Linked DNA regions of Homo sapiens. The protein of the gene in region 2 interacts with the protein of the main gene of each other region in a pairwise test. Each region holds a gene or a part of one and is shown on either strand. Other genes may lie near its edges.

Region 1 (3,447 bases), on a different chromosome or scaffold from region 2:
TTGGGAGGCCATGGCAGGAGGTTGACTTGAGGCCAGGAGCTTGAGACCAGCCTGGGCAACTCAGTGACACCCCTTCTCTGCAAAAAAAATTTTAAAAATTAGCTGGGCATGGTGGCATGTGCCTATAGTCCCAGCTACTTGAGAGACTGAGGTGGGAGAATCACTTGAGCCCAGGAGGTCAAAATTGCAGTGAGCCGAGATCGTGCCATTGCACTCCAGCCAGGGCAACAGAGCGAGACCCTGTTTCTAAGAAAGACAAGAAGTGTGGTCTGGGGACCTGAAGCATCAGCATCGTCAGAGAGCTTGTTGGAAACGCAGAATTGCTGGCCTCACCCCAGGCCCAAATCTGCATTTTAACAAGATCTCCTCGTGACCTGTGGCATATTAAAGTTTGATAAGCACTGGATTAAACAAGCAGGGAACAGGACTTGGCTCCAGGATGCCGTTGTGACTTCTGTTTCAGGATAAGCCACACCTGCTAAGCCCTAGCAGTGACCTAAGTCCATGATTCAGAATCCACACACCACCTGGTGGCTCCTTTTATTATATCAATTTATTCAAGTGATTAAAAAACTTCTTGGCAGCAGGATGACAAAACAGGTCTGTAAACATGATCTCATCCCCCCATCCCTTCTTCCAAGGAGCTTCCTATGACAGGAAATCGAATTCTAGTTGGCAAATCCAGTGATGAGGTCTGTAGAAAAGGGGTCCCGTGTCACAGCCAGGAAGGCAGACTCGTCCCTTTAACCCACTCCAGCCAGGGGTGCTGGCCAGGATGTGCTGTTCTGTCATGACGTGGTCACTGAGTCTGGTTCGTTGGCAGCCCCTTCCCCAGGAGGAGGGAGACTCTTTGGCAGTGCGGCAGCCCTCCCGGGGGCACGGGCTTCTCGGCAGCAGACACAGGCAGGCCAGAAGCAGGCAGCTGAGCCTCTCCAGCGAGCATGGTATTGCTAGGGTTGCAGGTGCCCTGGCAGGTGGCCAGGTGAGGGGCTGAGGCACAAGTGCTATCAGGAACTTGGCTGCCCCACAGGGGCTGAGGACACCCAGATGGTCCACGCCAGTGGCCTTGAAATTTCCCCTGCAGAAGCCAGACCGTGGGGAAACAAGCTTTCGCGACGTGCCACCCCGGGCAGCTTGAGGCTTCAGTCCTTGAAGGGGTTGTGGGCGCCCCCTGGCTGCTCCTTCTCTGCGGCCAGAGGCTCCCCGTTCATCTCCTGCAGCGGGTGGTATGCATAGTCCCCATGCAGGCGCCGGTTCCTCTCTGCTCTGGACAGGAGCAAGGACAGGTTTGCTGCAGTGCTGATCAGCAGGAGGAAGGCCAGCGCCAGGGTGAGGGCTAGCCAGGCGGTCCTGCAGACAGGAGAGAAGCCCCAAGTGGGGGACTGCTGGGTGGGCTCAGGGCTTGGGTAGCACTGGAGGGGCTTCCCTCTACCCGGCATAGATAGCACTAAATCAGGTGCCTCCAGGGACCACACAGGGAATGTTATGAGCAAAATGGACTAGGTGGGGATGGGGCAACATTTAAGACATGTGCAGGGAACAGCAGAGGCAGTCATGACGTACAATGCAGGTCCGTGCTGCCCCATCTCCTGATTTTTTTTTTTTTTTTTTGAGACAGAGTCTCGCCCTGTCATCCAGGCTGGAGTGCAGTGGCATGATCTCAGCTCACTGCAATCTCCGCCTCCTGGCTTCAAACGATTCCCCTGCCTTGGACTCCCGAGTAGCTGGGACTACAGGCTCGAATCACCACGCCTGGCTAATTTTCGTATTTTCAGTAGAGACCAGGTTTCACCATGTTGGCCAGGCTGGTCTTGAACTCCTGACCTCAAGTGATCCACCTGCCTCGGCCTCCCAAAGTGCTAGGATTACAGGCGTGAGCCACCACGCCTGGCCTGATATTTTAAGAGAAGCCATTAAAAAGGTTTTTAAGGCTGGGCGTGGTGCTCATGCCTGCAATCCCAGCACTTTGTGAGGCTTAGGCGGGCGTATCACTTGAGGTCAGGAGTTCAAGACCAGCCTGGCCAACATGGCGAAATCCTGTCTCTACTAAAAATATGAAAATTAGCCGGGCACCTGTAATCCCAGCTACTCAGGAGACTGAGGCAGGAGAATTGCCTGAACCCAGGAGGCGGAGGTTGTGGTGAGCTGAGATCGCACCACTGCACTCCAGCCTAGGCAACAGAGTGAGACCCCGTCTCAAAAAAAAAAGTTTAAAAAAATGTGAATGTTACTGATTTTTAGATGCTGCTGATATATTTTAACTTTTTAAAAATTATGTAAGCCAAATAAAACACAGCTGGATGCTGGGCATGGGGGCTGGGAGGCCAAGGTGGGAGGATCACTTGAGCCCAGGACTGTGCACCTCGTCTGTGCAAAATAGTGAGATCCTATCTCTAAAAAACAGTAAGAAATAAAATTAGCCGGGCATGGGGGCACGTGCCTGTCGTCCTAGCTACTTGGGAGGCTGAGGCGGGAGGATCGCAGTGAGCTGACTGTACTACAGCACTTCTGCCTGGGTGACAGAATGAGGAAACCTCCTGCCCCCACCCTGGGATCTCATCTAGCCCAGTTTGCATTCTGAGCTCCAGTGGGGGATGCTGACAACAGAGGCTGGGCACTCGAAGGCCCTGGGCTCTGCTCCAGGGTCCCCAAAGCAGACAGTGGGGAGAGCTGGTCCCGCTTCCTCTAAGGCAGGGAGCTGGCAGGGGACAAGGGCAGAGATGGACCTCACAGGGGAAGGGTGCGGGAGAGAAGGGGGATTCCTCCCGCCCTGGCCCCAGCTCCCACAGAAGCACCTACCTGGTGAAAAAGGAGAGTTCTCCCGCCCTCAGGGTGGCTTCAGGTGGCTGGAGACACTGCTTTACTGTAACATACCAGAGACAGGCTGAAGGGGCCGGAGCAGGAGCGTCTGCCCATACCCCTCCCCTTGGAGGGATAGGTACCTCTGGAGACGCTGCAGTTGCCAGTCTTGGGGTCACAGGGACAATGGTGCTCACACTTACAAGGCCTCTGGCAGCCCGGCCCATGCCAGCCAAGGGGACACTCTATGGAAAGGAGATGGGAGGAGGGAGGAGGGAGGAGAAAGGTTGGGGCCTCCAGTGTCAGAGCCTTTCTCGACAGGACAGGATACCTGCCCCTGCCCATGTGTACAGAGCCGGGCTAAAGGTGAAGCACCCCCTGCCCTCCCTGGACTAGCCCCTGAACGTGACCTTATTTGGAAGCAGAATCTCTACAGAGGCACTGCAGTTAGGATCTCAAGATAAGACCGTGCTGGATTTGAGGTGGGCCCTGGAGCCAGAGCCCGGGGACCCTTGTTTTAGCCGAGCCCTTTGTGGAACGGGCCGCAGCAGCCACAGGGGAGTCACACAGTGATGTGCAGGTGAGGCCGGGGCAGAAGACAAGAGGCAAGCATTTCCCAGACCAGAAGGTGGAGACAGAAGCAGCAGA
Region 2 (3,751 bases):
TTCCCTTCTGGCCTTAAAAGAAGCTGTGTATACAGCTTTACATAACTTTCCCTTTAAACTTAAACCTTTATGGTAGTCCCATTCAACCACTTGACAGCTCCATTAATCTATTTTTACTATTAAACATGCCATTTTACAAGATATTTATTCCACTTGGTCGTCATCCAAACGCTTTTTGACATTACTGCCCTGGGAGTGAACTGCTTAAACTCGCTGCCCTCATAAACAGAAAATCACCTTTTGACTCAAATCTTGAAGAGCTCTCAGAACCTCACCCCCTTCACTTCTACAGGCATTAATTTCTGCCATATATAAAGGAGAGAGTGAGTAAGTGTGTGTGTGTGTGGTTTTAAGAGGGTAATTGTGGGAGGTCTGGGCAATTCAAGAAGTGCTGGGGGAAGGAATCCTCTCCTCTAACTCCATTCTGCTCATCGGGGCCTGCCTGAGACCTGGAGATCTGGTAACTTAACAGAGAGAAAGTGATCAGAGAGCAGGTTGGGGAAGAACTCCAGGGCCTAAAAGGCAGTGTCCCAGGGGGCCAAGCTGAGCAACCACTCTTTAAAAGGGGAGGGGTCGAGGGAAAGTCCTTATTCATCGACTTCTCTCCTTCTCCACGCCCCAGACAAACAAAAGGCCACCGCGAAACAGTTGAAGGTAGAGACCTACTGGCTTTGAAGACTATCAATCAGGTGGAAACCTGAACAAATCACAATTTGGCTTCCTCATCAAGTTTTCTCCCCAGCCTGACAAACCCTCCTCCGCCGCCGCCTCCACCTCCTCCTCCGCCTCCCAGGCTCAGCACAGCTACGAGGCCAAAGGGACCGTCCTGTGATGCCTGCTGGTTTCCAACTTTCCGCTCATCTTCGTCTCCGCAGCCTCCTGCAAAGCGGCTGGGAAAAGGGCAAGTTTGCAAAGCCGAGGATACAAGTCCTGGGGAAGCCACAAAGAAGCTGCAACACCAACAAAGATTAACCTCTTGTGGGGCAGACGAAAAGCGCCAGCTGCCGTTCAGGGGGGCGAACGTGGGCTCGGGCTGGCAGAGGCTCCGGCCAGCTGGCAGCGGACAGCAGGGCCGGGGGTCCCGCGGCCGCCCTCGGCCCCCCGCCCCGCGCGGACTCCCCCTGCACCTGAGCGGGGGTGAGGACAGCGCCGCGCTCCGGCCCTGCCCCCGCCAGGTAGCTCGGCTGCCGCCCGCGCTGCGCGCCCGCTGCCTGCAGCCGCCGGGAGCGACGAGAGCAGAGGCAGCCTCGGCCCACGGCGTCATGCTTCCTGCCACCACATTACGGCGAATCGTCACCGGGAGAGGGGAGCGAGGGGAGAGGGGGAGGGAGGGGAGCAGACACACGCAGCCCCCCGCCTGCCAAAACGCGCGGAGACGGGGCCACGTCCCGGTGGAGTCCCCGCGGGACCTGCCCCGTTTGCACAAAGCGCCGCAGTTTGGCCAAGAAGGGAGGGAGACGGCCACGAAATAAATAAATAAAAACAGTCGGGTCTACGTAACGCCCTGTCGAAAGCGGACGCCATATTTTTTTGTGGCTTATGTCGACATAGGGAAACGTAGACATGTTTTTCCTCCTCCTCCTCCTCCTCCTCGCTCTGGCTCCCATTTATCCAAACTTGTAATCAAAACTCTTAAAAAAAAAATCTTCTTCCCTCTCTGTATCCGCTCATTTCCTCCCACCCGCAAAAAGAGCCTGCACACCCCCCCCCTTCCGTACCCCCCTTCCAATCACAAACCCGGCCAAGTCCCATTAACAACACATTTTCGGGAGCCGCGGCGGCGACGGCGGCGGTGGGAAAGTTGGGCTGGAGTGGCCGGCGCCCGGCGTGCGGGGTTTGGGGCCGGCGGCGCCGGCTGGGGGGCTCCGCGCCGAGGCGAAGTTTCTTACCTGCGCTGGGGCTGTGAACGCGGGGACCCGGGCTGGGAACGCGGAGACGCGGCACGGGCGTTCCAAAATGGAACTCTGCTGGCTCCCCCCACCCACTCCCCACTCCCCACCGGGCGCCCGGCTCGGGCTCCGTGGGAAAGAGGGGGAAAGCCAGCCTGCCAGCCAGACAGACAGACAGAAAAAGCCCCCGTACGGAGAACGATGGCCAAAATTTTTAAAAGAAAAAAAAAAAGGAAAAAAAAAGGGAAAAAAAATGCCTCGATCAGTGGGGAATCTACGCCAAAACCCACATGATCTGTAACGTCAGCATGCGTATTTGCATACGATACCACCACCCGAGCTGCCACCCGGGCTCGGGTTCCGCAGAAAGTTACAAAGTGAAATTCAGCCCCCTCCGGAGACACCGGCGAAATGTCATTTTTCAGGCAGGAGCTGGGGGGGAGGCTAGCCCTAAAGGCGCTGGTTACTGGCCAAGGTAGGGGGGCAGTAAATTAACTTAAAAGTCTGAGCCCAGTAACGGACTCGGTGGAATTTCTGCGAGAAGAGGAGGGGGAGGCGCGAGCGAGATCATTGAATATTAAGCACGACCCCGCGCGGCGGCCGCGGCCAAACCGTCTCCGTGCAATACCCATTTTCTTTATGAAAAGTTCAAGGTGTCACTGATGAGCTCAACAAACTGTTGATCTTGACCACGTGGAGTGGCGGACCGTGGGACCGAAGGGCGCGCTTGCAGGCCCGGCTCTGGCGGTACCCGGGCCCCGGGACCCTTTGCGTGGGACTGTGCGCGGGTGGGGCCACCACGCACCCTGGGCGCTGCCTGCGCCTTGGCCCGGCTTCAGGCTCAGGAAAATAATAATAACGATTTTAAAACTATGTTGAGCGAGACACATTTTACTCCCGGAATGATAATGAGAAGGCTCGGCGTAGGGAGGGGAAGAAGGAGCCCCCCACTTATATAACGACTTGAAGTTATATCACTTTTGCTTGGGGAGATTCCGGGATTTCCGCCCGCGCCAGGTCTGAGGCTGGTTAAAGATCTTCAAACTTTTTTCCCTTAAGAGCCAATAAACAAACAGACGCCCCAGGGGCCGACTTAAACTCTGGTAGAGCCCGAGTTCGCTGGAATTCTCAGATTCGAAGAAATGCACACGCCTGCGGTGCTCGCAGAGAAGTCCCTCGGAAGCTAGGCGGGTCGCTTTCGCAACTGGGACTCCAATGTTCCCAGTGGGAGCGGAGCTCTCACCGCGGCAGCCCCCAGGTTCCCCTAGGCGCCTTAGAGCAAAGGTGGCGGGGGATCGCGCTGCCCTTCGCCCGCCGGCTCGGAACCATGAACTTGTATTCCGGGCGCCGCGCTCCTGCCACAGTGCTCGGCTAAAGAGCTCTAAGGAATTCGGGATCTGGGTACACTTCGGGATCTCAGGCGGCAACCTGTCTGCGCCGCGCATTCCTGCCCAGATGTACCTTGTTTCCCCCTGGGCTGGCCTGTGGACTCTTGGGCAGCTCCCGGGCGGGGACGAGGGGATGCGGTCTGGGGGCTAGTTTAGAAGCTTCGAGCGCAGCGAGAAAACAAAGGGAGCCTGGGGCTGGGAGGCTCTGCGGAGTCCCCGCCCGCCCTGCAGATTAGCAGGCGCGTCGCGTCGGGGCTTCCCGGGCAGCTCTGCTCTGGGGAATTAGAACGAACTCTAGCGGCCGTTTGCAACTCGGCTGTGGGCGCGAGGGCATCAACAGGTGGCCGTGTGCAGCGGAGAGGCCAATGGCGAGGACCCGGACTGGGGTGAGGACGGCTGGCCTTGGGGCTGACTGGGTGGCGGATGCGCTGGGTGACCTTTTGGCTTTTTCATTTCCGAGGCCGGGGAGAAGGA

The links. Proteins that work in one complex are often made in the same cells at the same time.
Region 1: the proteins of ZHX2 (region 2) and NAGPA interact in a two-hybrid assay, tested with the Homo sapiens proteins (one large-scale study listed by BioGRID and IntAct).

The regions. Positions count from the first base shown.
Region 1 is NC_000016.10:5,024,336-5,027,782, forward strand, and holds the end of NAGPA (N-acetylglucosamine-1-phosphodiester alpha-N-acetylglucosaminidase precursor), read right to left. Parts: intron 3,045-3,447; coding exon 2,943-3,044; intron 2,864-2,942; coding exon 2,800-2,863; intron 1,351-2,799; coding exon 1,143-1,350; 3' UTR 509-1,142; downstream 1-508. UniProt on the Homo sapiens protein: Catalyzes the second step in the formation of the mannose 6-phosphate targeting signal on lysosomal enzyme oligosaccharides by removing GlcNAc residues from GlcNAc-alpha-P-mannose moieties, which are formed in the first step.
Region 2 is NC_000008.11:122,780,085-122,783,835, reverse strand, and holds the start of ZHX2 (zinc fingers and homeoboxes protein 2), read right to left. Parts: upstream 2,182-3,751; 5' UTR 1,890-2,181; intron 951-1,889; exon of another isoform or gene 667-950; intron 1-666. UniProt on the Homo sapiens protein: Acts as a transcriptional repressor. Represses the promoter activity of the CDC25C gene stimulated by NFYA.